2 separate regions of the Homo sapiens genome follow, and region 1 is linked to region 2. Evidence: fine-mapped expression QTL. A gene starts in region 2. The other region holds a variant in brackets. All regions are shown on one strand. Distances are between the middles of the regions.

Region 1 (10,082 bases), 28 kb after region 2:
GTAGGTGGGCTATGGACCCTCCCTACAGAACTACACCCAGTGCCCAGTGGAGGGAGGGCTGGCGTGGGCGCCGTGGGCCTTAGGGTGCTATGCAGAGTGCCCGGCCTGGCCATGCTCCTGGGTCCACCCTGCTCCTCACTCACCAGCGCCTTGGTGCCTGGGAGGGTGGCGGGGCGGGGGTGTGAGGAAAGCTCCCAAGAAGGGAAGGGGCTGCGTCAGCCCCTAGCTGCATGTCCGTGTCCCCCGGGCCCTGGCTTCCCGGCGGGCGGAGGCTTCTGCAGTGACTGAGCTTGTCCTCTCCTCCCCTCCCTCTGGCCAGCTGTGGGCTCCTGCAGGATTAGGGAGAGGAAATTTGGGGTTGGGTTTCTCTCTGAACGAAACCTGCCGTTGTGACTTTTTATCCTGTTATATTTCTATCAGATTGGACTCAGCCCCCCTCTAGCCCTTAATGGCTCTGGCTTTGAGAATTTCCTCCAAAATTACACCACTGCTTCCTGCTCCGCCATTCCCTGGAGCCTGTCTTTGCAGAGGAGGGGCAGTCCTGGGCCAGCCCTGCACCGATGCCCACGTGGGCCACAGCACCTGGTCTCCCCCCGAGGGTGCGTCCCTGCCTGTGCTAGCGGGGAACTGGGGCCGGCCGCCGCCCTGACGCCCGCACCTGGCACCATCAGCCATTGTCCACCCAGCCGGAAGTTAGGCTGTGGCCTGGCAGGGTTGGGGGGAGGTGGTCCACACAGCACCGCCCTTCTTCTCTCTGTGCCCACTGATCTCACACCACTCAATGGTAATTGTCACCTGCAGGGTTTTAATGGCCAGCCAGCTGTGCACAGAGCACTGTGGGGGCTAAACCCACCTCCTGTGGTGGGCGGGGTCTTCAGGGGGCTGGATGGGCCGTGGTGGTGGGAGGAGGATGGCCAGGGGTCCTCCTTCCCACGTGGGCAGTGCTTCCAGGGGCCAAGTGGCACTGGTGCATGAGGAGATGCCCCTCTCTCCAGTCAAGGCTCGTGGAGGCAGGACACCCACTGCCCTCGCTGGGGCTGGGAGCCCCCCCCTCCGCTGGGCAGCACAGCTCGCTCCACTCCTTGTGGCCACCTGCAGCGCCCTCCTCACCCTCAGGGCCCCCGGGTGCCCGACAGGCCCGAGTCGGGGGCACCCTTGCCCTGCTGCTGCCTCTGTCCCTGCCGCTGCCTCCCTGTCCCTGCCTTACAGCGTCCCTGCCTTGTGCCTCGCCCTCCCCATCTTCTGCCACGCAGCTCCTCCCCCACCCTCTCTCCCGGCGTGGCTCCCTTGTCCCCACCCCACAGCTTCCCGATATGAGGCTCTGTGGGTGAGCTAAGCCCATCCTCACCGCCTCAGCCCAGGGAGGGGTGGCCCTGAGCCTGGAAAGTGGGGGCTTCCCAGGGAGCCGGGGTACTTGGCCCAAGGAGGATGGGACCACCAAGGGTGGGAATGGAGGCTCAGGCTGGGGGCTGGGGGTGGATTCTGAACCTTTCATGAGGACAGTTGGCCTCCATATTTGGAAGATACTGTTTTGTTTTTAATTATACAAAATTTTCAGACTTTATATTATCATATCAAAAACACAAGATGCCATCACACAGTGGCCGGAAGAAAAGCCAGCGCAGAAAGTTCCAGTGGGCCCGGGCAGGTGCTGGGGCCAGCGCAGAGTCCCGCTGCCGGCGCCTGTCTGTACGTCCGTCTGTCCCTCGGCCCCGCTCGCAGCCAGGGCTGGCCTGGGGGCATGCTTGCGGTGGGCCTTGCCCAGCTCAGGTCCAAGGTGGGGGCTGTCTGCAGTCACCCCGGGCGTCCACCTCCCCCAGCAGCGTCTGCCTCCTGGCTGCTGCCGGCCACCTCCTAACTGCGAATCGCTGTCTTTCTGTCGCGGTCCTTGCTCTGCAGAGGGGAGGGAGGAGTGTCAGGCCCCGGCAGAGCCCAGCGCCAGTCTGCGCCTCTCTGGCCTCCCTGCTGGGTGCCATCTCAGGTGGCCAGCGCCAAGGCACCTCCTTCCCGGCTCTCCCCAGCTTCCCTCAAGCGTTTTGGGGAGGGGAGCATACTGCTGCACAGCCGAAATTGTAAAATTAAATTTCCCAGATGTTCAGGCCCCAGGAGCTCGCGCGTGCTGTCTGGAGAGGAAATGGGGATTGGGAAAAGCCGTGCCGTATTTTCTCCCTGCTCACCCTGCTTTTCCGGTGCCACCAAGCACAGCAGGAGCTGTAAATCACAGCTGGCCAGCGTCTCCTGCAGGGGCCCTCACCCCCAGCCCCCACATCTCCTGCCAGCCTCTGCCTTCGTGTCCCATGGCCCACGTCTCGGGCAGCCCTACAGGACCTGGTGTCTTGGTGTGCGGCCTAGGTGGGGGACGGACAGCAGGTGCCCAAGATGGCTTAAGCCAGTGCTGGGCCGCAGGGGCTAAGAACCCGGGGTCCTTCCTCTCTTGCCTTGCAGCCTCTTACTTTCTGAACTCAGCTGTTTTCACTCCGCCTTTCAACTTACTGAAAAGGGAAGCTTGCAGCGGCCTGGTCCAGCTCCCCAGCCTCCCCGCCCTGGGTGGGCCCCTTTGGCCATCCCTAGCTCTTACCCCTCATGCAGCTCCCTGCAGGGGACTCCACACTCCACTGGGAGCCGAGTGTCCTAGGGACGCCCTGGAGAGGAGCCCCAGGAGAAGGCCCCAGCCCCCGGCAGGCCTGTGTTACAGGTGTGCCTGCCTGTGCCCTGTTGGGGAGCCCTGCCCGTGTGGCCTCGCCTCCTCTGCCTGGCAGGTGTGGGCTGAGGGGCGCGTTGGAGGCCCCCCTCGGCGCCCCACGGCCCGTGCTCACCAACTTTCTCTGGTTGCTGAGGCAGAAGGTGCAGATCTGTTTGGGCTGGGTGTTCTCGCCGTCGCGGGCGGGAGGCGGCGGGGGCGGCGGCGGGGGGCTGCCGGCGCGCGCCGCGTGGAAGAAGGCGGGCCCGGAGTGGCAGGGCTGTCCGTCGCCGCAGGCCTCGCCCGCCAGCAGCACGTTGCCCAGGTGCGAGATGTAGCTGGAGGCCAGGCGCAGCGTCTCAATCTTGGAGAGCTTGCGGTCGGCGGGCTCGGTGGGGATCAGCGTGCGCAGCGCCGTGAAGGCCGTGTTCACGCTGTTGGTGCGGTCTCGCTCGCGCGCGTTCGCCGTGTGCCGCTGCCGGGGCTCACGGCCTGGCCGGCCCCCTGGCCCCCCGCCCCCGGCCCGCCGGCCCCCCGCCCTCCGCCGGGCGCCCTGGAGGCCGCAGCGCGCCGCGTGCACGCGACAGGGTTTCTCGTCGGAGCCCGAGCTGTCGCTGCCGCGGTCCTCGTCCTCCGACAGCGGGCTCACCTCGGGGTACAGGTAGCGGCCCGGCGGCGCCGGGCGCAGCGTGGCGAAGGACATGGGGCCGGCGGGGGCGCGGCGTCAGCTCTGTCGCGCGCTGCTCATGCCGCCTCCTGCGGCCGCCGCGGGCCTCGCGGGCCGGCCGGGGCGAGGCGCGGGGTCTCGGCTGCGCCCCGCGGTGGCAGCTGCCGGGCGTCGCGCGCACATGTGCGTCCCGGGCCGGAGCGGGGCCCCGAGCTGCGCCTTTATAGCGGCGTCCCGGCCCCTCCCCCGCGCACGCCCCGCCCCTCTCAGCCCGGAGGCTCCTCGAGCAGCGCCCGCCGCGTCCCTCGGCCTTCTGTGGCCACGCTTTGGCGGGGGTGGGGGGGGCGGGGCTGGTCTTTGGGGGCATCGTTCCGTCTCTGGGGATGCGGAGGAACTGGGAGGTCGCTTCTGGGCTGTAGTTACTCAGGGCCCCAAAACTGCAGTGCCCCCCGTCCCCGGGAGAGGGGAGGAACCCACCACCCCGTTTTCTCCCGTGGCACAACTGAGTTAACCCAGCCGCCCTGGCCCTGCTGCCTGACCGCACCCTGTCTGTCTTTGCCTCCCATGTGCGCCAGCGCCTGCCTGTGCCAGGCCGTGTGCAGGGGGCGGGCACAGGCGAGTATTTAGGGGCCTAGAGCTCAGTCTCTCCGCCTGTCTGTCCTGCACCTGCCTCTCCAGGCTTGGCACAGACTGTGCCTTCTGCTAGCTGGCCATGTCCCCTGTTCTTGTGCTGTGTGGACCTCTCACCCCGT[C/A]GGTCTCCTTGCCCCTTCCTCCTTCCCCCGTTCCTCTCCAGGGCCACCAGGCCCCTCAGGAAGCACACACATACCCCCATTATCCAATTTGGGGATGGCCCCCTATCTCCATGGGGAGGAGAGGGAAGGACCCTCAGCAGGGGGCAGGGCCCAAGGGGTCCCTCCTGCAGCAGGGGGCCCGGCAGGCTCCCAGCTGTGCTCTGTCTTGCCTGGGCCCCTCCCCGTGGCTACTGTTGCAGGAAGCAGCCTCCTGGGCAGCGGTCCCCAGGCTGGAAGGAGCGAGGGTGGCGGCTGGCAGGGGCTGCAACCAGGAATGTACGTCCAGGAACGTGGCTGTTCTGCCTGGGGAGGGGCCGAGGGCAGACGGTGGGGGGTCCCCCACAGAGAGGTCTTGGCTTCTGCCTCTCTGTGGAATGGGTCAGTTGGGGTCTTCCCCGAGTCCCCGTCTTATAGCTGCCCACTTCTGCCTAAGGCCCCTGCCAGGGGAGGGAGCCCGTGGGTGATGAGGTCATCCCTGTCTGTGGCTGCCCAGAGCCCTGGCCAAGGAATCCAGTGAGGGGGGAGCTCTGGGGTTGGCACCACTTCAGTGGAAAATGTGAAGGTGCAGCTCCGGCGCCTCCGAGGGCGGGGGTGGGGGCAGCGTGGCCGCCATGCCACGTCAGACCCCAGGGCTGGGGAACAGGCGTAGGTCAGGGCCAGTGACCTCAGGGCACTTGAGGCTGGGCCTGCACTCCCCCTGCAACCCCCTCACCTGCTCCCCTGGGCGGCCCGAAGCGGGGGTGGGCCTTGTAGGATCAGATGCCGACATGGTGGCCCCCGGCTGCAGGACATCCGGAACACGGTGGGCAACGTGCCCTTGGAGTGGTACGATGACTTCCCCCACGTGGGCTACGACCTGGATGGCAGGCGCATCTACAAGCCCCTGCGGACCCGGGATGAGCTGGACCAGTTCCTGGACAAGATGGACGATCCTGACTACTGGTGAGGGCTGGTGGGGTGGGGCCAGCAGCCGGGGTGGGCCCGAGGGGTGGGGCAGGGCTGGCGGGGTCTGACTGGCGGTCTCCAGGCGCACCGTGCAGGACCCGATGACAGGGCGGGACCTGAGACTGACGGATGAGCAGGTGGCCCTGGTGCGGCGGCTGCAGAGTGGCCAGTTTGGGGATGTGGGCTTCAACCCCTATGAGGTAGGTGGCAGGGGCTGGCCCCTGGGCGGCGGGGGTCCTGGAGGCACCAGCAGGGCCTCAGCCACTCTGGCCCACACGCCCACATCTTCTCCCCCAGCCGGCTGTCGACTTCTTCAGCGGGGACGTCATGATCCACCCGGTGACCAACCGCCCGGCCGACAAGCGCAGCTTCATCCCCTCCCTGGTGGAGAAGGAGAAGGTGGGGCACACAGCCCCTGGGGCTTGGCCTGGGCTGACCGCCCCGCACTGCCCGTCCTGACCCGGCTGTCTATGCAGGTCTCTCGCATGGTGCACGCCATCAAGATGGGCTGGATCCAGCCTCGCCGGCCCCGAGACCCCACCCCCAGCTTCTATGACCTGTGGGCCCAGGAGGACCCCAACGCCGTGCTCGGGCGCCACAAGATGCACGTACCTGCTCCCAAGCTGGCCCTGCCAGGCCACGCCGAGTCGTACAACCCACCCCCTGAATACCTGCTCAGCGAGGAGGAGGTGGGCCTGCATCCTGGGGGCCGGGACCCTGTCCCCATGCTTCCCTGTGACCCTCCCCACCCCTGTGTCTTGGTCTCCACAGCGCTTGGCGTGGGAACAGCAGGAGCCAGGCGAGAGGAAGCTGAGCTTTTTGCCACGCAAGTTCCCGAGCCTGCGGGCCGTGCCTGCCTACGGACGCTTCATCCAGGAACGCTTCGAGCGCTGCCTTGACCTGTACCTGTGCCCACGGCAGCGCAAGATGAGGGTGTGTGGGGGTGGCACACCAGGGGGGTGGCACAGGGGGCAAGGCTGACCTGGCGCTCTCCTGCCCCAGGTGAATGTAGACCCTGAGGACCTCATCCCCAAGCTGCCTCGGCCGAGGGACCTGCAGCCCTTCCCCACGTGCCAGGCCCTGGTAAGTGGAGACTAGGGGGCTGGGGTTGCACCCTCCCAGTCTGACTCCTCACTGCCGCCGCCTCCTCAGGTCTACAGGGGCCACAGTGACCTTGTCCGGTGCCTCAGTGTCTCTCCTGGGGGCCAGTGGCTGGTTTCAGGTGGGTCCGAGCTGGGGGCAGCCTTGAGCTGGGGGGCAGGTGGGATGGCCAGGTGTTGAGAGCTGTCTCTGCCGCATCCAGGCTCTGACGACGGCTCCCTGCGGCTCTGGGAGGTGGCCACTGCCCGCTGTGTGAGGACTGTTCCCGTGGGGGGCGTGGTGAAGAGTGTGGCCTGGAACCCCAGCCCCGCTGTCTGCCTGGTGGCTGCAGCCGTGTAAGTGGAGGCCCTGGGGGCTGGGGAGCCAGGGGTGGCACTGTGCTTAGGGGCCGTGTCTGGGCCTGGCTCACAGGGAGGACTCGGTGCTGCTGCTGAACCCAGCTCTGGGGGACCGGCTGGTGGCGGGCAGCACAGATCAGCTGTTGAGCGCCTTCGTCCCGCCTGAGGAGCCCCCCTTGCAGCCGGCCCGCTGGCTGGAGGCCTCAGAGGAGGAGCGCCAAGTGGGCCTGCGGCTGCGCATCTGCCACGGGAAGGTACGTGGGGCGCCTTGGGGGTGAGGCTGCAGCGGGAGGGGCCCGGCTCAGCCACTCAGCCAGCCTTGCTCTCCTGCAGCCAGTGACGCAGGTGACCTGGCACGGGCGTGGGGACTACCTGGCCGTGGTGCTGGCCACCCAAGGCCACACCCAGGTGCTGATTCACCAGCTGAGCCGTCGCCGCAGCCAGAGTCCGTTCCGCCGCAGCCACGGACAGGTGCAGCGAGTGGCCTTCCACCCTGCCCGGCCCTTCCTGTTGGTGGCGTCCCAGCGCAGCGTCCGCCTCTACCACCTGCTGCGCCAGGAGCTCACCAAGAAGCTGATGCCCAACTGCAAGTGGGTGTCCAGCCTGGCGGTGCACCCTGCAGGTGAGGGGTGGGGGCGGTGCACCCTGCAGGTGAGGGGTGGGGGGGGGGGCGGTGTACCCTGCAGGTGAGGGGTGGGGGTAGGGGCAGTGCACCCTGCAGGTGAGGGGTGTAGGTGACGGGCAGGGCAGTGCACCCTGCAGGTGAGAGCGGGAACACCTGCATCACAGCCTTTGGCCCTAGGTGACAACGTCATCTGTGGGAGCTACGATAGCAAGCTGGTGTGGTTTGACCTGGATCTTTCCACCAAGCCATACAGGATGCTGAGGTGAGGAAAGCTGGGGGTGGAGGCGGCCAGCAGAGCCCCTCCCTTCAGCCCGAGCCTGCCTTCAACCTGGTTCCCTCCCCCCAGACACCACAAGAAGGCTCTGCGGGCTGTGGCCTTCCACCCGCGGTACCCACTCTTTGCGTCAGGCTCGGACGACGGCAGTGTCATCGTCTGCCATGGCATGGTGTACAAGTGAGTGCTGACCCTGCCTGGCCCCCTCCCCAGGGCAGTGGTGTCTGGCCGTGCCCTGAGCCCTCCTCGTCCCCACAGTGACCTTCTGCAGAACCCCTTGCTGGTGCCCGTCAAGGTGCTGAAGGGACACGTGCTGACCCGAGATCTGGGAGTGCTGGACGTCATCTTCCACCCCACCCAGCCGTGGGTCTTCTCCTCGGGGGCAGACGGGACTGTCCGCCTCTTCACCTAGCTGTTCTGCCTGCCTGGGGCTGGGGTGGTCGTGCTGAAGTCAACAGAGCCTTTACCCTGTGCTGCCTGGTGCTCCCACCTTCTTGAATTGGGGTTGCCAACAAAGCCGCCCCCACCACAGCGCCGAGCCTTCCCCTCACTCAATTTTGCAAAAACAGTGGGGACAACACAGCCAGTCCAGGGCACCCTCTGGCCCATCCCCTAAGAGGCTCAGCATCGCACCCTGTCAGTCACTCGCTGGGAGCAGATGAGTTTATTGGGCACATCCCTCACTGAAGGGCTTGGGTTTGGTCCCCAGCAGTGCCTGTTCTGGGGCCAGGCCCCTCCAGTCGTGTGCCCAGGCTGTGGTCCTCAGGAGGCCCTGTCTTGGAGCTCAGGCACAGGTCTGGGTGCATACTCCTCGCTGGGGGTGCTGGCCGGAGCCTTAGGCGAGCTTCACCAGGCGGCCCAGGGCCTCAGCAGCCCTCGTCCGCACCTCGGGGGCCGGGTCCTTCAGCAGGATCTGGAGCGCTGGGGGTAGAGGAGGGGGGCTGCCTGCGGGCTGTGACCTCGGCATGCCCATGCCTGCGCGTGGGCCACGCTCTCCTGACAGCCTCTGCTGGGAGGCTCAGGAGCCAACGGAAAGATCGTTTTTCCTTTTTTAGTGTTTTTTAAGCTCTTTTGGAACAGTTAAGAAGTTTCCGTGAATTACTAGAGACGATGAGGTCACCAGTGACAGGGAAAAAGTCCTGAAATCCAGGAAAATCACTTAGTCCCTGCGGGTGCCTACAGGGTCAGCAGGGCCCAGCGGAGGGGCCCCGTGGAGGGGTGCTCACCCGCAATGAGCTGGTCCAGGTCCACCTGCGGCTGCTGCCTGGGCTCCGAGTGCAGCACCAGGAACCCTGTGAAGTGGGGGCATCAGGCGGGGCTGCCGGGCGGCGTGGGGGTGGGGCAGGGGGTGGTGCTTACCGGTGAACAGGGGTGCAGCAGCTCGGACGTTCTCCCAGCTGCTCTTGAAGTAGAACAGGCAGGTGGTCAGGAGACGGCCCAGCAGGTCTGGGAAATGGTGCATCTGGGGAGAGGCCTGGTCAGTGCCGCCTGGCCCCGCCCCACCCACCACGCCCCGCCTGGCCCCACCCCTCACCAGGTGCTTGCAGGTGGTGTTGAGGAACTCCCCGAAGTGCAGGGCTCGGCCCTCCTGCAGGTGTTTCTGGAAAGCAGCTGAGAGCTCCTCACATGCCAGATTGGGGCCACACATGCGCAGGGCAAACCTGCAGGCCTAAGGGATGCGGCACTGGGGCCAAGTCCAGTTGAGGCCACCCACCCCATCCCACTCACCCCCTGGCTACTCACGCTGGCCACGGTGGCCTGAGGGTCCTGCAGGTGCAGCAGCAGGGGCGCCAGCCCGCCCACCACCTGGTCCAGGAAGACGTCCTCACAGTCTCCGTGGCAGACCTTGTTAAGGTGCCCAAAGAGGCGGATAGATGCCGTCCGGAACTCCATCTTCTCCTGGGAAGGACATGCAGCATACGTCTCCTCACAGGCTGTGCCCCTGCAGGCCTGCCTGCCTAGCCCCCTGCCATTGATGGGTGCCCTTGCCTGACCCGGGCCAGGAAACACCCCGACGGGTGGGGGCCTTACGGGTGGGGGCTGCCAGGCCCAGCAAAGCAGCAGCCCTGCAGGTCCGCGCTCTCCACGGTCACCTAGCCGAGGTGGGAGACAGGGAGGAGGGTGGGGCTGGGGCTAAAGCTCAGAGTAAGAGGCAGGAAGGGCTGGGGCCCTCTTCCCTCCCCCTGCCCCAACCAGCCTACACTGTCGAAGAAAGGCCGGATGCGGATGGCCACGTGCAGCAGCCCTGAGCGCAGGTCCCAGGACTCCACCAGGTGCACCAGCCTCGCAAGGCCCAGCATGGCCTCCAGGGCCACTGGGCTGTGAGGGTTGTCCCCGTCGTCCAGCCCGCCAATCATGGCTGTGAGGAGCTGGGGGCCGTGGGTTCGCACCTGAGGATACCTTACACTCAGCCTGGGTCCCAGAGTCACCGTCTGCTACCCCACAAGACAGGGTGGCCTCCATGCACAGCCCCCCACCCATGCTGCCTGGGACCCAGAGGGGCTGGTGGCCACCCCACCTTGTCAGGGCAGCCGGAGGCCAGGTTGGCCAGGCCGCGGAGCACCAGCCTCCGCACGCTGGCGCATGTGTCCTTCTGGCGAGCCGCCAGGCTCTCCAGCAGCGAGTCCAAGAGCATGAGGTCGTTGGCCACGTTGCTGTTCA
Region 2 (10,082 bases):
GGAGTATAGGCTTTAGGAGCAAAGGGAGCGCGTGTGTGAGTAGCTGTGGCCCACGTGTGGGGAGCAGGGACCACCGGAGTCAGGGCATGGAAGCAGTGAGGCAGGCAGGAAGCGCGAGCAGGTGCAGACAAAGTGGCTCACTTTGTGGCCCCGTTCCCTGGTCTGGTTCTGTCCACATCTGAGCCACCCGCACCTTTCTCATAAACACTCTTCTTGTTTCCGCTCTGGAGGAGCTTCCAGCGTGTTCTCGCCACACAAGGACCAAGAGCAGCACAATCGCCCTCATCTCTCATCACATCTCGTCACTGGCTGCCGTGCACAAGTGTGGTGGCTACTGCTGCTCACCATGGCCCACAGGGTCACAGGGAGGAGGCTGAGGCAGCAGCAGCCCTTGCTGCCAGGTGCCTTGAGACATTTGGGACCACCTCCTTTCCTTAGACAGCCTCCCCTCCACCTGCCAGACCTTGAGGAGACCCTGGAGCCAACAGCCCTCAATATACCCGATGGGAGCTGCTTGCTTCCTCTGGGAAGGCACTGTGAGCCCCACCGACCCCTCTCCAGCTCGCCCTGCACACAGGCTGACTCCTCCAAAACTGAGAGACTTTCAGGGCCAGGCTGTCCATCCCTGGTCCCTCAATAAAGGACTGAGCAAACACTAGCCTGTGGAGTTGGGTGGGCATGGGGCACCGGAGGCATCTGCCTCCCCCCAGGAGGCCACTGCAGCTCAGCCCTTCTGTGCCCTGGGCCCCTCCTCACCGCACCCCCCCCACCACACCATCCGGGGCAGAGGAAACACAGGAGGCTACAGCACAGAGCCTTTTTAATTTTTTCTGTGCTATGCACAGAAGCTGTATGAGGACAGATGTGTGCCTTCTTTTTTTTTTTTTTTGAGATGGAGTCCCGCTCTGTCACCCAGGCTGGAGTGCAATGGCGCGATCTCAGCTCACTGCAAGCCCCGCCTCCTGGGTTCACGCCGTTCTCCTGCCTCAGCCTCGCAAGTAGCTGGGACTACAGGCACCCACCACCACGTCCAGCTAGTTTTTTGTATTTTTTAATATAGACGGGGTTTCACCATGTTAGCCAGGATGGTCTCAATCTCCTGACCTCCTGATCTCGTGATCCGCCCACCTCAGCCTCCCAAAGTGCTGGGATTACAGGCGTGAGCCACCACGACCAGCCCCAGCTGTGTGCCTTCTTATGGCCACACCAGGAGGCACTATGGTCCGGGCACACATCAGGCCCTCCAGACCCTGCAGCACTTCTCACAGCTGCTGCTGTGGGGCCTCCAGCATCTTGGGCCAAATACCAGATCTTCCAGGGTGGGGCCAGTGGGCCTGCTGGGTCTTGGCGGCTCTCAGAACCAGGGAAGCAGGGGTGGCCCTGCCTGCCGTGGGAGCTCCGGACACGATCTGTGACCAGGGTCTGAGTGACTGAGCGTGGCCAGGTCGGCTCTGCTTCTGCAACTCCTCGTGTGCTTATGAGTGGACGCCCTGCCCTGCCTTACTTCAGGGACCCCTCAGGCCCTGCCCCCTGCCTCACTGCAGGGACCACTCTGCTCCCAATTGTCCACCCAGAGACCCTCCACAGCGGCCACCTGACCACTGGCTTTCAATGGAACTCTCTCCCGCGATAGGCCGAGGGCCTTGGTGACCTCCAGCTCACTCAGTCTCAGGGAGCCCCAGGGTTTCAGCACATCCTTCTAGAGTCTTTCCAGCTGCACCCATGAGGCTGGGGCCAGGTGAAGACAGAGAAGCATCCAGGAGCCCACATCTAAGGAGGCCCCCACTCCCAGCGCCATCCGAATGCAGGTAGGTCTTAAAAAGGAATGCCTCAGGGCCAGGCGCGGTGGCTCAAGCCTGTAATCCCAGCACTTCGGGAGGCTGAGATGGGAGGATGGCTTGAGCCCGTGAGTTCCAGACTAGCTTGGGCAATACGGCGAGACCCTGTCTCTACTAAAACCTTAAAAAGAAAAAAAAAAAAAAGCCAGGTCTGGTGGTGCAAGCCTGTAGTCCCAGTGACTCAGCTGAGGTGACTGGATCACTTGAGCCTGGGAGGCAGAGGCTGCAGCGAGCTGCAATCATAGCCCTGCACTCCAGCCTGGGCAACAGAGCGAGACCTTATCTAAAAAACAAAAAGTGCTTCCTTAAATTTTGCACCCAGGTGCCCCCTCTGGCCTCACCCTGATCCTGAGGCCTCCGTCTACCTGGGTTCGTTCTAACCTGCGTGACCATCATTCTAGCATTTGTCTGGCACAGGTCATGTGGCTGTGCCTTGTTCTCAGGCTCCTCAGCCAGCTGGGTGGCTCCTGGGGCTGTAATCTCACCATCTCAGATGTCGAGATTACTTTTCATACTTCCTTATCTTGTTAATAAAGATGGGACAAAATCATAGCTTGTAAAAAACTGGGATGATGGTGAACCCAGTTCTGAGGCTTCACTTTCTGCTTTTGTTTGGTTCTCCATGCTGTCAAATTCTCTGAAGAGGCTGTTGCCCTCCTGAGTCAGCTGCAGCCCAGCAAGGCCCTAGAAGAGCCTCTGCTGGTGGACAGAGGAGCTGCTGCATGCAGACGAGGAAGCTGGGCTGAGGGCCGGCACCAGGGCACGGGGCAGGGAGGCTGCGGGTCCCGGGTCTCATGGGTCTCAGTTCTATGGAGGTGCCTGTCAGTCCAGGTATTCAGTCCCCCAACCCCGTCTTTGGGTCTCAGTGGTACTGGATCCAGGTGTACCTTTGGGAGAAGCTGTTGAGAAGCTGGCTGAGGGAGGACCACCCACGTGCACGCCCATGCTCTTATGTGGATCCCCGGGATCATAACCTTGTGGCTGACACATTTCCTCTCCAAGGCTGTGCTGTCCTCCACGACTTGCTGGGTCCCCTCAAGGCCCTTGCCTGTGTGGGTGGGGTGCTCATGGGAATGAGGGTCTTGGGAGGGGGGGGTGGGAAATCAAACAACACAGGGATGGGGTAGCTGCCACAGTCCCCACCAATGGGGTCTCCTGGGCAGTGACCCGGCATTCTGCCTCCAGTGGCTGCAGTGGGAGTCCTGATCTCAGGCCAGGGAGGGGACGTGCAATGGTGGTCCAGACCTGGTCCCATTCCTGGCCAGGCTCAGTAAAGTTACTGGCCAGTTTCTGGGCCTCGGTCTCCCCCAGGTTATTCAGCCTTGAGAGTTAGTCACCATGCCTGTGATTCTGCCTCATCTTCTTGTGTCAAATAGGGAGGGTTTTTCTTGGCAGAATGGTGGTAAGACTCTGAGCCAGAAGGAGACTCTCCCAGAGAAGGCAGCAGAGAGCAAGAGCACCAGGGCCTTCTCAAGGCCTCCGAGAGCCAGCTGGGCCTGGGCAGTAGATTTGTGGGAGGGTGCCCTGTTGGGACTCTGCTGACAGGGAGTCCTCAGGGCTTGTGTGAGTGCTCTCAAAGTCACAGGATGGGATGATCACCTCCTTTCTCCAGGCCAGGCAGCCAGCGCCGGAAAGCTCTGCAGCCCCCTGCGCGGCCTGGAGAAGGGCTTCCTTCCAGTTTTAAGTCAGTGTTTCTGTCTCATTGCCATGCTCGCCCCCAGTGCTACGTCCTGCACCAACCATTGCCACTTCATACTGACCAGGTGGAACCAAACACTCACATTCCAGTTGGCTCCCCATCCCTCCCCAGGGAGAACAGATCCACAGGTGGTGCACCTGTGAGTGGAGTGGAGGCTGGCCACGGGCCTCATCACACCTGCCTTCCTTGCTCAAAAGCCCTGCCCAGAACATGCCTCGGTCCCAAAAAAGGGTACACTGGGCCCTAACCCACATGCCTCATAATCTTTAAGCAGAAACAGCAAGCAGATTACGGGACAGGACAGATCACGCTAGTAGGATTAAGCTTAGAATATCCCAGATAATCGCGGATGCCCCTCCCCCAATGGGGGAGTTATTCCCCTTAACTTCTGAGGATTAAGGGGAATAAGAAAAAGAAGAAGGGCTGGGTGCAGTGGCTCACACCAGTAATCCCAGCACTTTGGGAGGCCAAGGCGGGTGGATAACTTGAGGTCAGGAGTTCCAGACCAGCCTGTCCAATGTGGTGAAACCCCGTCTCTACTAAAAATACAACAATCAGCCGGGTGTGGCAGCACGCACCTGTAGTCCTGGCTACTCGGGAGGCTGAGGCAGAATTGCTTGAACCCGGGAGGTGGAGGTCGCAGTGAGCCGAGATCGCACCACTGCACTCCAACCTGGGTGACAGAGCAAGACTCGGTCTAAAAAAAAAAAAAAGAAAAAAGAAAAAGACGGATAAAAGAAGACAGAAACATGGGAGTATTTCCTTTGCACAAGAATCCAAGGTCTAGAATGAAGAGATGGTGAAATGAAGCCAGCCTCCAGGAAGGTGCACTGTGCCTTAATGGGACCTGGGGATGGGAAGGCCAACACAGAGGTGTCAGCGGGACAAACACAAAGTGTTTCTAACAAGAGCAAAGATTTCCAGTCTTCTCTTTATTTCCAAACACTCTGTAGGTAAAGCAGAGCCTCAGTAAACCCAAGAAGCAGAAAACCTGGCCTCCTGCCTGGGGCAGCTTCAGTTTAGACTTTTCTTCATTCCTAACAGCATAAAGAGGCTGTGCAAATGGGAGGCACTCAGCAGAGCCTGAAGAACTCTGGGGTCTTAGCTCCTGGGAGGCCACACATGCTTGGTGGCACCCTGCCGGTCACGGTGCCTCCAAAAGCTCCCAATGATCAGTGGCCTTTCTTTTTTTTCTTTTTTTTCTTAGACAGGGTCTCACTCTTTGCCAGGCTGCAGTGGCGGGATCTTGGTTCAGTGCAACCTCTGCCTCCCAGGTCCAGGGAGTCCTCCTATCTCAGCCTCCCAAGTAGCTAAGACCACAGGCAAGCACCACCACGCCCGGCAAATTTTTTGTATTTTTAGTAGAGCTGGGGTTTTGCCATATTGTCCGGGCTGGTCTCGAACTCCTGGCCTCAAGTGATCCACCCGCCTCCGCCTCCCAAAGTGCTGGGATTACAAGCAAGAGTCACCCCACTCGGCCAGTGTGGCCCTTCTTCAGGTCATCACTTGCCAGCCGCAGGCGGTGGCTCTGCCCCTCACCGGACACGACGTCACAGCCGGGATGTGAACAGCAGATTCTGATCTCCAACTCCAGACAATCACTGATTTACTTCTGCAAACCGGAGCTGTCCGGTCTTGCAGGGTCGGACCATGTAAACAAGCCTGCTGCCAGGCAACTGAAGACAGAAACACGAATAAAGATGCCCCATAAGGAATGAAAAACAAAACTCCTCTTGGGAAACCCAGATTTGGGATTCGGAAACGGGCTTGAGATCAACCTGAAGCTTCATGACGTCTTACTGTTTCCACTGCCTTTCCTGTTCCACTACAGCAACGCCCTCCACTTCACGTGCCAAGTCCTGACTTTCTCCTAATAGTTGCCGACCCAGCACCCCGTAGGCTGTCCCCTGGGGACGCCGATGTCCTCTGGGGCATAGCGTCCGCTGGCGAAGCCGGGTGCTTGCCCTAAGCGCGGACACTTCCGCAACCGCCCAACAGTTAGCAGAAGCCCAATACAAGAGACGCCCCATTCTCCCCATCCCAGGGAAACTTCGCTGGGGCAGGGGTTGAACCGAGTGTGGGTCTCGTAGCCGCTTTCCCAACTTAAGGCTCTGGGTCTGAGCAGGCTCGGGACCCGCCGCCCTTCTCTGGCGGGGGCAGGGCAGGCTCACCGCGCGTAAGCTGAAGTGCGGCAGGGCCCCTCCCCGCAGCCCTCCCGCGCCGTCCGCCGCGGCCCTGCTCCCTCCCGGTCCCCACGGGCCCCGCGCCCGCGCGCTGCCCTCACCGGGCTCCAGCAGATGAGCGCGTCGGTGTCCGGGTCGCTCACGAGGGTCCACAGCTTGGTCAGGAAGGCCGGGACGTTGCTGGGCCCCGCCGCGCCGGGGCCCACGGGCAGATCCATCTCGAGCAAGGAGGGAATAGGCGGAGGGAGCGGCCGCAAAGAGGGGCCGAGGGCCGGGCTAACGCCGTCGCCGCGCCAGCCTTCCGGGCCGCGCCGCCGCCCGCTGCGCACACACAGCCCCGGGGCCCAGCATGGCCGCCGCCATCTTGCAACGGGCGCGCTCCCGCCGCCGCCGCTGCCGCCCTCCCGCGTCACCCCCGGCGCGAGCACGCAGGCCCCGACCCCGCCCTGGTCCCCGGCCCAGCCGCGCGCCTGCGCGTGTTGGTCCCACCCCCTTCCCTCCACCCGCCAATCGGGGCCGGGCTGGGCGGGGCGCGTCCTCCTGCGCACGCGGCCCGGTCGCTGTCGGAAGCGGCTGTGCGGGTGGCGGCCGGCGCGCGGTGGGGCATGGCGGGTTCGCGGGGTGCGGGGCGCACGGCGGCGCCGAGCGTGCGGCCGGAGAAGCGGCGGTCTGAGCCCGAACTGGAGCCTGAGCCCGAGCCGGAGGTGACTGTGGCGATGCGGGGCGGCGGGGCGCGTCCCTAGAGGGCCCGGCGGGCACGTGGCCGCGCTGGGGCGGGTGGGCCCGGCTTCTGTCACCTGGGCGCCCGCGCCCAGTGAATCGGTCTTGGGCGTGGGTGCAGCTCCTCTATCGGGGGGTCTCAGGCAGAGCGGACTGCGGGGTAAAGGACGGCGTCCGGGAAGCAAAGAAACGGGGGAGCGGGGAGTGGGGACGGGGCGCCCCTTGCAGCAGCCTCTCCAGCCGTTCCATTTGTGCATCCTGCCAATAAAAGGGCTCGGCTTGCGCTCCCAGTAAATGCTTAACCTACGTATACGCTAGTTAATTGCGTTTTTATGCTCATGGGATAGACATGAGAATAAGAAAACCTGAATAGAACCCAGTGTCTGCTGCATTTGCTGTATTAGAACTCACTGTTGCTCTCTGCTAGCTCAGCCCTGTCTTGGTTGTGGGGATCATCAAATTGGGTGGTGGAGGGGATGGACAGCCAGCCCCTCACAGCCCCCTCGGCCGCGGCCGCGCTGGGTTGTTGAAACTGCCCCATTGCTTTGTGAAGCGAATTCAACTCATCCTGGCTCCCATGGGCTGAATGGCCCGCAGGCCACTCTAGGCGCCAGGTTCTGCGACTTCCACCCTTGGACTAAACGGTCCTCAGGAGCCAGTTGTTTGCGCCCAGGCCACGGATGCCATTTCCACTAGTTATTGTGATTGTGTAGCCGACTGAATACCAAGACACATCATGACTCTGTGTGAGAGAGGCATTGTGTGAACACTCGGTATGCAATAGCTAATACATGCAGGTCGTACCTTAAGTGAGACTTGTAAACTATTAGGAAAACAGTAAAATCTAGAATTCTGCATTCAACTGCTTCCTTTTTCTTTTCTTTTCCTTTTCTTTCTTTTTTCTTTTTTTTTTTTTTGAGACAGAGCCTGGCTCTGTTGCCCAGGCTAGAGTGCAGTGGTGCAGTCTTGGCTCACTGCAGCTTCCACCTCCTGGCTAACTCAGCCTCCTGAGTAGCTGGGATTAGAGGTGCCCGCCACCACCAGCTAATTTTTGTATTTTTAGTAGAGATGGTTTCACCATGTTGGCCAGGCTGGTCTTGAACTCCTGACCTCAGGTGATCCACCCGCCTCAGCCTCCCAAAGTGTTGGGATTACAGGAGTGAGCCACTGTGCCTGGCCTTCAACTGCTTCCTAAGAGTCTAAGTTCTTGTTCCACCCTTTAAGGCCAGTGAAGGACCCGAACACTGTGTGTGCCGGTGTCACGCAGCCAGCAGGGCTCTGCTCAGAGGCAGCTGTGGTCCTGCTCAGAGAGAGGAGTGGGTGGGTTGGTGCGTGGTTGCGGTTAGAGTCTCTATCATTCCTGTGACTCTTCAGCCAATCCTTTCAATTTACTGATCAATCGTTGGTCCCAATCTGGTTAAATGAGGAGGCGTCTGCTTCAGGTGGTAAAAGCCCTTTGGGGACCCATTTCTCTTCCAGCCCCCAGCCCCTTTTCTAGTGACCTCTTGGCTCTGGGGCCTTGGATGCCAGGGTGAGGTGTGGAGAGGGCTCAGGCAGGCTGTCTGAGGGACCCAGTGGAGTCCAGCCCAGCCTGACCCCACAGGGCCTCCGGAGTGTCAGTGGGTGGTAGAGAGCAGTGTTAGTTTTGCGATGAGAGCTGAGCTCCAAGAGGAGGAGGTTGTCCTTGAAAAGCCCCTTCCCTGTGAGGTGCTAGGAATTAAAATGTCGATGGCAAAGGCAAGAGGCTGTCTTGTCAGTGGAGGTAGAAGATGAGGAAGGCTCAGGTTGGGTGGATGCTTTTGGTGGAAGTTTGTGACTGGAGGGGTGTGGTCCTGGAGGCCACATGGAGCTGCTGGTGGGTGGCTGGAGGGGCGAGAGGCAGCTCTCCCTGCAGTGTTCAGTGCCCCATGCCTGGAGGGGCAGTTGTCACCAACCCAGTGTTTCCTTGCAGCCCCCCCTCCTCTGCACCTCTCCTCTCAGCCACAGCACCGGCAGCGATTCTGGCGTCTCCGACAGCGAGGAAAGTGTGTTCTCAGGCCTGGAAGATTCCGGCAGTGACAGCAGTGAGGATGATGACGAAGGCGACGAGGAGGGAGAGGACGGAGCCCTTGATGACGAGGGCCACAGTGGGATTAAAAAGACCACTGAGGAGCAGGTGCAGGTGGGTGAGCGAGGAGCCCCCTCGAGGGCTGTCCCCCATGTGCAGGTGGCCTTGGGCTTTCTGAGACTGCCACTGTACTGCCTTCTCCACCGTCCCTCAGAACCCCAAGGCCGGCGTCCCTCCTTCACTGCACCTGGGGCACGCTTGGGCTCTAGGACGCTGGTTTCCATCCCCAGTTGCGTGCCGTTCCCAGGAACTCTGAAAATCCACATGCCTAGGCCCTTCCCCGTCAGACGATGCTCGGGCAACCCTCCTGGCAACAGGTTGGGTTTCCTTGAGGTGGGGATTTTACTGCTTGGAATCCAGTGGCAGGACCCAGCTGAGGAGGGAGCTGAGCAGCATGGCAGGGCTCAAGCAGGCGGCATGGGGGCCCCAACGGAACCCAGCTGGGCCTGACCCCACAGGGCTTCAGGGGCCTGAGCAGCCGACGGGTAGAGGGTTTAACATTGTACCTGTTGCAGCGATGGTGGGGGAGGATGCACCCTACTCTTATTGAGAACAACAGGAGAAAAGCATAATTTAACTAAAACACAGCATTTGTTATTTTTTTTTATTTTTTATTTTTTTGAGACAGAGTCTCACTCTGTCGCCCAGGCTGGAGTGCAGTGGTGTGATCTTGGCTCACTGCAACCTCCATCCCCTGGGTTCAAGTAATTCTCCTGCCTCAGCCTCTCTAGTAGCTGGGATTACAGGTACATGCCATCACGCCCGGCTAATTTTTGTACTTTTAGTAGAGACAGGGTTTTGCCGTGTTGGCCAGGCTGGTCTCGATTTCCTGACCTCAGGTGAGCCACCACGCCCGGCCTATTTTTTTTTTTTTTTTCTAAGACAGAGTCTTGCTCTGTTGCCCAGGCTGGAGTGCAGTGGGGCGATCTTGGCTCACTGCATCTTCCACCTCCTGGGTTCAAACAATTCTCCTGTCTCAGCCTCCTGAGTAGCTGGGATTACAGGTGCCCACTACCAGGCTCGGCTAATTTTTTTTTGTATGTTTAGTAGTGACGGGGTTTCACCATGTTGGCCAGGCTGGTCTCGAACTCCTGACCTCAAGTGATCTGCCTGCCTTGGCCTCCCAAAGTGCTGGGATTACAGGTGTGAGCCACCGCGCCCAGCCCAGCATTTGTTACTCTAAACATTCTGGAAATCGTTTGTAAGGATTTACTCTCCCAGTAGTTTCGGTGTTCTGGAAGTTACGGCCTTGGCAGAGGTCCCCGTGATAGAAGCCAAGGAACCATGGCTTGTTCATTGTGTGCTAGCTGTGTTGGGTTGGCTTGTTTGCTGGGAAGAAAAGATTTAAAATCACACTTAATTCAGGCTTTAATTATACCACTAACATACACAGAGAAAAAATGATGTGCTGTGTTGGCAGTGGTTTGTAAGATTATGGACAACTACGTTACCCCTTCTTGAGTTTTTAAAATGATACAATACTGGGCCAGGCACAGTGGCTCATACCTGTAATCCCAGCAGCTCGAGAGGCCAAA

Evidence for each region.
Region 1: its variant is fine-mapped to the expression of BOP1 in whole blood (TOPMed, PIP above 0.99).

Annotation. Positions count from the first base shown.
Region 1 is chr8:144,259,915-144,269,996 of GRCh38, reverse strand. MROH1 (maestro heat like repeat family member 1) reads right to left here. Exons shown (of 44, transcript NM_032450.3): 38 at 9,940-10,082; 39 at 9,623-9,811; 40 at 9,165-9,320; 41 at 8,956-9,090; 42 at 8,781-8,883; 43 at 8,648-8,713; 44 at 8,071-8,342. The coding sequence ends at 8,257. BOP1 (BOP1 ribosomal biogenesis factor) reads left to right here. Exons shown (of 16, transcript NM_015201.5): 4 at 4,926-5,080; 5 at 5,166-5,283; 6 at 5,381-5,482; 7 at 5,560-5,772; 8 at 5,855-6,016; 9 at 6,086-6,166; 10 at 6,236-6,305; 11 at 6,387-6,519; 12 at 6,596-6,776; 13 at 6,856-7,144; 14 at 7,325-7,409; 15 at 7,494-7,601; 16 at 7,680-7,952. The coding sequence ends at 7,833. SCX (scleraxis bHLH transcription factor) reads right to left here and starts at 3,544. Exons shown (of 2, transcript NM_001080514.3): 1 at 2,817-3,544; 2 at 1,516-1,893. The coding sequence starts at 3,383. The coding sequence ends at 1,855. MIR7112 (microRNA 7112) reads left to right here and starts at 7,260; the gene lies at 7,260-7,324. RefSeq lists enhancers at 1,642-2,407, 2,408-3,175 and a silencer at 3,421-3,610. The variant C/A (reference allele first, on the strand shown) is at 4,100.
Region 2 is chr8:144,287,614-144,297,695 of GRCh38, reverse strand. BOP1 (BOP1 ribosomal biogenesis factor) reads left to right here and starts at 6,258. Exons shown (of 16, transcript NM_015201.5): 1 at 6,258-6,424; 2 at 8,392-8,601. The coding sequence starts at 6,326. It overlaps HSF1 (heat shock transcription factor 1), which reads right to left and starts at 6,092. Exons shown (of 13, transcript NM_005526.4): 1 at 5,822-6,092. The coding sequence starts at 5,938. RefSeq lists enhancers at 5,295-5,354, 4,957-5,613 and silencers at 5,745-5,904, 6,015-6,514.